Regions from separate parts of the Homo sapiens genome. Here regions 2 and 3 are each linked to region 1. The links come from fine-mapping of genetic effects on gene expression. A gene starts in region 1. Each other region holds a variant in brackets. All regions are shown on one strand. Distances are from middle to middle. Region 1 holds the start of BCAS1-AS1 (BCAS1 antisense RNA 1). Region 2 overlaps BCAS1 (brain enriched myelin associated protein 1). Region 3 overlaps BCAS1-AS1 (BCAS1 antisense RNA 1).

Evidence for each region.
Region 2: its variant is fine-mapped to the expression of BCAS1-AS1 in whole blood (INTERVAL, PIP above 0.99). The same link has a PIP of 0.9 or more in spinal cord.
Region 3: its variant is fine-mapped to the expression of BCAS1-AS1 in whole blood (INTERVAL, PIP 0.99).

The regions. Positions count from the first base shown.
Region 1 is chr20:53,914,300-53,917,061 of GRCh38, reverse strand. BCAS1-AS1 (BCAS1 antisense RNA 1) reads right to left here and starts at 1,573. Exons shown (of 5, transcript NR_199019.1): 1 at 1,496-1,573.
Region 2 is chr20:53,942,166-53,944,927 of GRCh38, reverse strand. BCAS1 (brain enriched myelin associated protein 1) reads left to right here. Exons shown (of 13, transcript NM_001366298.2): 13 at 1-1,387. The coding sequence ends at 6. It overlaps BCAS1-AS1 (BCAS1 antisense RNA 1), which reads right to left. Exons shown (of 5, transcript NR_199019.1): 5 at 1,347-2,753. Among named protein-coding and RNA genes, the nearest start is that of BCAS1-AS1, 28 kb to the right of the region's middle. The variant T/C (reference allele first, on the strand shown) is at 1,341.
Region 3 is chr20:53,935,002-53,937,763 of GRCh38, reverse strand. BCAS1-AS1 (BCAS1 antisense RNA 1) reads right to left here. Exons shown (of 5, transcript NR_199019.1): 2 at 170-401. Among named protein-coding and RNA genes, the nearest start is that of BCAS1-AS1, 21 kb to the right of the region's middle. RefSeq lists an enhancer at 2,251-2,752. The variant C/A (reference allele first, on the strand shown) is at 1,597.

The sequences.
Region 1 (2,762 bases):
TCATTCAATAAATTGTTTGGAGGGCCTCTCGCAACAAGCCTGTTCCTGGGGTCTTAGCTGCTGTCAATGGGGGTCACGGTGTGTTCCTGTGAATAGTAAGACCAGAGCTCTACCGTCTGATAGCCACTAGACATACGTGACTATTTAAATGTAAATTCAGAATAACAAAAATTAAATGAAGTTAAGAATTCATCCCCTCACAGTTGCGTAGCTGCATTTCAAGAGCCCAGTAGCCACATGTGGGTGGTGGTTACCATATAGGACAGGACAGTCCGGGCGCAGTGGCTCGCGCCTGTAATCCCGGCACTTTGGGAGGCTGAGGCAGGTGGATCACCTGAGGTCAGGAGTTTGAGACCATCCTGGCCAACACGGCGAAACCCTGTCTCTACTAAAAATACAAAAATTAGCCAGCCATGGTGGCGGGTGCCTGTAATCCCAGCTACTCGGGAGGTTGGGGTACGAGAATCGCTTGAACTTAAGAGTTGGAGGTTGCCGTGAGCCGAGATCGTGCCACTGCACTCCAGCCTGGGCAACAGAGAAAGGCTCTGTCTCAAAAATAAATAAATAAATAGATAGATAGATAGGACAGGACAGATGCAAAACATTCATATCATCCTAGAAAGCTCTCTGTGCAGTGCTGGACTAGGTAGTCAGATTTGCCTGGGACACTCTGGACTATACCTGCTGTGTCCGCATCATCATCCATAGCACTCTGTTTCACTCTCAAAAATGTCCTGGTATTTCAGCTACCCTTCTACCCGCTGAGCCACACTCTTTGCTAGGACTTCCCTGAAACCCAAACCCTTTGTCTTGATGAATAAGTTGGCAGTGTCCAGCAGTCTCCCCCACCCCATTCCCTCTCACCTATCAAAAGCAACAATTTTAGGAACAGGAAAAAAAAAAATCCAAGTGAAGAAGTTGTCATTTCTCCCCAATTAAATGATTTCCTTGTCAGCGGTTTCACTTTTGTTTTGTATTTCCCTTTGCCTAAAGCAGCTCTGATGGGCGCCCTTTGCCCTGAATCATGCCCACAGATCTCACAGGAAGGAGGCCGTCCCCGGCTTCTCCTGAGCCCTCCCGGCCACCCTCCCCTACTCCCAGCCTCCCCTTCCCGTCTTGCCCAGCAGAGGGCGTCTGAGTTTAATATTCTCAATAAAGAGCATGTACACAATCACTTGGGATTTTTTTTTTCTTTCTTCCAGTGATACTTTTTCTTTGTGAGCAGCAACTGAGGTGCCAGATAATATAGGTCACCTGAAGGACAAGCCGTCAGAATTGGAGATCAGAGCCGCTCAGGCCGGCCGCCAGCTCGTTAGGGAACCGCACACTCAGCTCCCACCCAGCTCGGGACGCCCAGCGGGAGCTTCCCTTGCAAACACCAGCAGACACCATTTTGCAGAACTCTTAAGAAACGCGGGTTAAATGTGTTAGGTACAACGCATGCAGCCAAGACGGGCATGGAGAGCGAGAGGGCTGGCCCGGGGGGGAAGCAAACCTCCTGATGATGGGATTGCTCTTGCTGGGGGCTTTGTAAACAGCCTTGCATCTCACACCTCTGCCAGGCAACAAAATGGTGGTGGCTAGAAAAAATAAATAAATAAATAAACAACGCGGGGGTGGGGGGAAGGTGGCACCAGGTAGGTACCAGAGATGGACTTTTCTACAATTTTCTTGGGCTGTCCGTTACCAACAGTTATTCTCTCTCTTTTTCTTTCTTCCTTTCCTTCTCTGTCTCTCTCTTTCTCCACCCCCCTCCCTCTCTCTCTCTCTTCCCCCTCCCTCCCTCTCTCTTATTCTCCTTGTTACATTCTCTGCAGTAATCTTCCCCCTCCTACTGAAGGGGGCGGAAGACCCAGCTGATTTGACTCCAGCTCCCCCTCCTCAGCCTTGCAAATTCCTTATTGAGCATAATTTCTGATTTGTTTCTATGTATCTTAAGGGGTGAGGTGCTGAGGCAAGTTAAGAGTTCGGGTTATCTTGTTTGCCTGTTTTGGTGCACTGAACATATTTACGAAATGAAAAAGCTCCTTTCTAAATGGGTGTTAACTGCTCTAAGATTCCCAGGAAACGTGTTGAAGGGACATCTAAATGGAAATTGTGCAGTATTACTCCATTGCACCTTTTAGGAAGAAAACAATTGTGGCTACTCTGTTGGGCTCTGGTGGCAGTGTAGTAGTGAGTGATTTGTGTGACTGCGGCACATTCATTTTCCTTTTCTATTATAATCTCACCTTCCTTAAGGAATAAATGAGACCATACAGTAAAGGGCTAAGCAAAGTTGCATGACACAGCTTCGGTAGCAGCTGTTACTGTTTTATTATGTCTTTGCTTCAAGCTCTCTCCCTGGGCCTGGAGCTTAGCTTCTGCACACAAATGCTTGATGGAGAGAGCTCTGTGTTATCTGAATCCAGAAATTCTACAGCAGAGGTTTGGCTCCACCTCACCATTGATTTCCTTTCGGTGATTTTGTAAGTCATCACTTTGTAATGCAATTTCTCTCTGTATGAAACAAACGAGTATTTTTTTTTACCACCCCTTCTGAGACTGTTGATAAAACACACTCGACAAACGTTTTACAGCACCCTTGTGAGGCACTAAGGAATGGGGAGAAATCTACACCTAACCACCACCACCACCAGGCATCCCAGTGTGCTCAGGGCAGCGCCAGTTTTTGCAGAAGTATTAATAGCCCCTCCTTTCACTCCCCCAAGCGTCTTCGATGGGATGGTTAGTTATAAGGTCACGCTACAGAAAACATAACA
Region 2 (2,762 bases), 28 kb before region 1:
AAGTAAACAAATCAGCACGGTTCCCACCAGGTTCTCCTGCCACCAAGATGTGTTCTCCTTACTCCATCTCCTCCCCAAACACGCTCCATGTATATATTCTTCTGATGGCCAGCAAATGAAATTCTGCCTAGAAATTAAGCCCGAGCTGTTGTATATTGAGGTGTATTATTTACGTCTCTGGTCCAGTCTTTTCTGGCAAATAACAGTAAAGATGGTTTAGCAGGTCACCTAGTTGGGTCAGAAGAGTCGATGATCACCAAGCAGGAAAGGGAGGGAATAGAGGAATGTGTTCGGGTTAAGTGATGAAAATGGCAGTGGTGGCCGGGCGTGGTGGCTCTCGCCTGTAATCTCAGCACTTTGGGAGGCCGAGGCAGGTGGATCACCTGAGGTCAGGAGTTCAAGACTAGCCTGGCCAACATCATGAAACCCCGTCTCTACTAAAAATACAAAAATTAGCCAGGCATGGTGGCACACACCTGTAGTCCCAGCTACTCGGGAGCCCAACGCACGAGAACCGCTTGTACCCAGGAGGTGGAGGTTGCAGTGAGCCGAAGTTGCACCATTGCACTCCACCCTGGGCGACAGAGCAAGATTCTATCAAAAAAAAAAAAAGGCAGTGGCAAGTAAGTTATAGAAGAGAAATGCTGCTAGAAGGAATTAAGCGTTGTAGTAAATGCGTGCTTATCCTCTAAGCTTGAAGAAGGGAGACGAAAATCCATTTGTTTAAATTCACATCTCAAGGAGGGAGAACCCGGGCTGTGTTGGGTGGTTGCCAATTTCCTAGAACGGAATGTGTGGGGTATAGAAAAAGGAATGAATAAGCGTTGTTTTTCAAATAGGGTCCTTGTAAGTTATTGATGAGAGGGAAAAGATTGACTGGGGAGGGCTTAAAATGATTTGGGAAAACAATTGCTTTTGAGGCTCAGTGACAACGGCAAAGATTACAACTTAAAAAAAAAAAATAAATAAAAAATAAAGGAAGTTGCACGGTTATTTTGCAACACAAGGGGGCGGCAAGGTCCCCATTTTTATCCTGTAATACTGTATCCCTAACAAAGATTTGGTCTCTGCTATCTTACATTATTAATGTTTCTCAGATGGCTGAGGGGCTCGCTTCATCTGTTCCGTCTGACACTTATCTCAAGTGTGTCTGTCATTCCTAATGTTCTCAGGATGTGCTCTGATAAAACCCTCCCCATAACCTCAGTTAATAAAAATTTACAGAAGACTTCTCAAATACCTGAGTTGTTTTTAATACCTGTACAAAGGAGTAAATAGGACCCTGAGTCTATTAAAATGTAATTCAAAGTAGCATATGATTGACTGACAGTCATGTAAAC[T/C]GTATCTTTCTTTTTCTGATTTAATAAAAAATACATTTACTTCTAAAGTATCTTTTAATTTTCAACTTCAAAGCAGTCCCACTCTATATCTGAGATGACTCTAACTTCTACATTATAAAATCCATACTCTTTCTCCATTATCTTCTTTGGAAGATCATTCTCTCCCAGATCTTCCCGGATTTCCTTGTATATGGGCACACACACACACAAATGTGTGCAGTTGTATGTTTGCATGTACACACACATGCATGTATAGAATAGTGCTGTCTTAGGCCAGGTTGCTTGGAGCAGAGCCTGAGATGGGGATTTGGACGCATAGGATATACTGAGAGTGGGCTCCGAGGGAAAGGGAGTAAGAGAAAAAGAAGAGGGCAAGAAAAGAGTTGGGCAAGGGTTGGTTTCAACTGGAGCATGAATTGCACCACCCAGATAGTTTGACCTTGAGTCAAGGGAGCCAGCCTTTGAACCCTGGTAGGTGAATTCTGGGCTGCCCTGGGAGGTGGGGGGATGGGCAAGCGGCCCCCATTGAGCTGAGAAGCTGGGATGCCTAAGTAACTGGAGGATGAGTGCATTGACAGTGTCCACTACAGATACACACCTATATGTTCAGATACATATTTATACCCATATTTGCATATATATGCACATATTCATATATATAAATATATATCATGCAGGAATAGATCCATGCACTCACACAGTCATATTTACATACATGCAAATAAACACATGTAACTAACACAGATCCACACACACACATTGGCTCACACAAATCTATCTCATATGCAATTCATCACACATTGATCGGAGATAAACATTGAATATACTCTCCTGATGTGGATGGACCTCGACTCTAAGGACAAGTTTGCTGCTTAGGCAAATTACACCACGGCTTTGGCAAATAGGCATTTGGAAAATGTGTTCAGAAAAATATGGTATCACTCAAAACCCAAGCGTAAGTGAGGAGGGGATCCTGAGCTGCTGGGGCCTATTAGCTCCCAGCTTGGACAGGTCAAATTCGTGTTTCCAATAAAGACCAGAGGTCTTTTCCTTGCAGCTGGGTTAGTTTTTTCAAACCTCCTGACCATACCTCGAGATTACTCACACCTGTGCCTCACCCAGTTGAGAACTATCTCGTGCCGCTTAGTATCAGAATGCTTAACTTGGCATGAAGCAGGAAAACAGCACTTGGGGAAGCCATTGGTGGGAGGCCCATCACTGCCATCGTCAGAGCACGGGGTGATTCAAGGAAACCAGGCAGCTGCTATTCCTTTGTCTCCAAACACCGTGGGGGTTGTCTGCTGCAACCTTTGGTGAGCTCCTGAGCTGCAGTCCATTGAGGAAGGTGACAGTATCATTTGCAAGTTTCACCTCGCTGGGTACAGGGGCTTTTTGCCCAGATAAGAAATGCCCCTAGGCAGG
Region 3 (2,762 bases), 21 kb before region 1:
ATTTAAATGGTTATTTCTAAGTGTCATAAACATGGACTTGGGATTTGGCCTCATCATTCACCCAGATGATTCATACCCATGATCCCAGGCTGTGAGGTCTTGAGCAAATTACTTCTTCTCAGAGCCTTAGTTTGTTCCTCTGTGGAATGGGAATGCTAACAGCACTTACCTCGGAAAGTTGCTGAGAATAAACGAGACCGTGCATTTAGAGCATGTAGGCACCGTGTCTGGCAGGTAATGAGTGCTCAGTCAGCTTATTGATGAGGATGCAGATGACCTCAGCCTGAGATAGAACAGATGTGTTCTCTTTCATGGACTGAAGGCCACCCAGACTTTGCGACATCCTTAAACTTTGCCCCAGTTTCTCCTTATCCTCATAAGCAGTTGGCTGGCTGGCTTATCTAGAAAAAAGAAAGGAGGGAGGAGAAAAAGCAAAGAAAAATGTTCATTTTCCCTGCTGTTCACCCCATTCTAAAGTAAGGCAGAATTTCTGGAGAGGGGGCTCAGGTCCACCCTTGGCTATCCTTGGTTGTACAGTTGCATCTACTTATAACGGTGGCCAAGTCGCCATGGCAGTAGGTGCTGTGGCTGCCCTGCCCCATCGTCTTCAGACTACCCGAGTTTACCTGCAGCACTGACAGCTTCCCACCCCAAAACTCCTCGTTCTTTGCTTTTCCTCTCGGTGGCTTTCTCCAGGGGCTGTAGGAGCTTGTTTAGCCCACCTGCATGGCATTTTGAAAATACCTGAAATTTTATGCCCCGAAGGACAATTCTCAATCAGTGAAAGATGGGAGAGGAAAGGTAAACACCTCAGCTGCCCCATCTCTCAGTGGGACAATGTTGAGGGGTCGTCTTTGTGTTCTCTCAAGGGTCCTCAGCAAGACCGAGCCACCCGTCACCCACAGCAGTAACATACTCATGAGCACGCCCCCCCACCCCACCTTTTGTGCTTCCTGGGATCACTTCCCAAATAAACTACTTGCACCTAAGTTTTTGTCTCAGGGTCTGTGTCTTAGGTTAAAAACCTCTGTGTCGGCCAGGCGCGGTGGCTCACGCCTGTAATCCCAGCACTTTGGGAGGCCAAGACGGGTGGATCACCTGAGGTCAGGAGTTCTAGACCAGCCTGGCCAACATGGTAAAACCCCATCTCTACTAAAAATACAAAAATTAGCCGGGTGTGGTGGCAGACGCCTGTAATCCCAGCTACTCGGGGGGCTGAGGAAGGAGAATCCCATCTCTACTAAAAATACAAAAATTAGCCGGGTGTGGTGGCAGACGCCTGTAATCCCAGCTACTCGGGGGGCTGAGGCAGGAGAATCCCTTGAACCCGGGAGGCAGAGGTTGCCATGAACCGAGATCACACCATCGCACTCCAGCCTGGGGGACAAGAGCGAGACTTTGTTCCAAAAAAAAAAAAGAAAAATCTGTGATCTGTGTCTTAGGGTTTTCTCGGGAACCTCTATCCCATGACAAGGAGCTGAATAGAAGGACATTAATATGGGTGCTAGTTTTAAAGGTACTGGAAGAGTTGAAAAGACAACCATGGGGCCGTGAGGCCCACCCGGAGATTAGAAATAGAACATGGCACATGTATAC[C/A]TATGTAACTAACCTGCACATTGTGCACATGTACCCTAAAACTTAAAGTATAATTTAAAAAAAAAAAGAAAGAAAGAAATAGAAATAGGCTACAAAAAGAACCACCACTAGAGACACACAGCCAAAGGGAAGAGGTGATGCTTCTGGAGCTAGGGAACCCGGCACCCTGTGGGAAATAGAACCCCATGTGGATGGGGGTGAGGCTGCTTGAGGGTAGCTGGAACCCAATGGAGGCTTCTGCAAGCAGTACCTTTTTGTTGACTGGAGGGAGGAGGCAGGAAAAATACGTGTCAGTGCCGCCCACTGGCTGAACTTAACCAGAAGCCAGTTGGTAATGGAACCTGGGAAATGCAGTTTGAAGAGAAGCTTGGAAAAATGATCTGAGAGTAAACATACAAATACCTAGCACAGTTGGTGGCTTTAAGAGGAGAAAAAAGGGAAGGGAAGGGGAGGGGAGGGGAGGAGAAGGGAGGGGAGGGAAGGGAAGGGAAGGGAAGGGAAGGGAAGTGAAGGGAAGGGGCAACCTTGATTAGTGTCCCACCCCCTTCCCTGGCTCTAAATAAATGAACATGTATGCTATGGTCATGCTGACATCCTTGTCTCCTCCTTTATCTTCAGAAGAGAGCAGTAGCTATGAACACAGGCTCTGGGTCCAAACAGCCTTGGTTGCAATCCCAGTGGTGCTACTTGCTAGCCACGTGGCTTTGAGCAGGTTCCTTAACTTCTTCCAGCTTCACTTTCACATCCATAAAGTGGAGACACTAGTAGAATCCACCTCACTGAGTTGCTGTGGGGATTTAACGATGTATTCCATGCAAAGCACAAAATGAGTGTCTAAGAAATGTTCATGCTTATGGAAACAGACTGTTCTTTGAGTTTCAATCAGCTTATTCAAGTTCCTGCTAAAACATGTTTCTTCTCCTCTTTACCACTCACACCTCCAACTTCAATGTCTAGAATCTACCCCTTGTCTCTACTTCACAGTCTTTAAAGTAAATAAATAAATAAATCTTTCTATTTTCATAGAGGTTCTGTGAGAACTGAGGAGAAACAGCCTTTCTCCTCCCCTCTGGGCTCACAACCCTCTCTCCGCATCCCCTGCCCCCTCCCTATCTTTGCTGGCCAGTTGTTCACAAGTAGCTTAACAGTTTTGAGAATACAAAAAC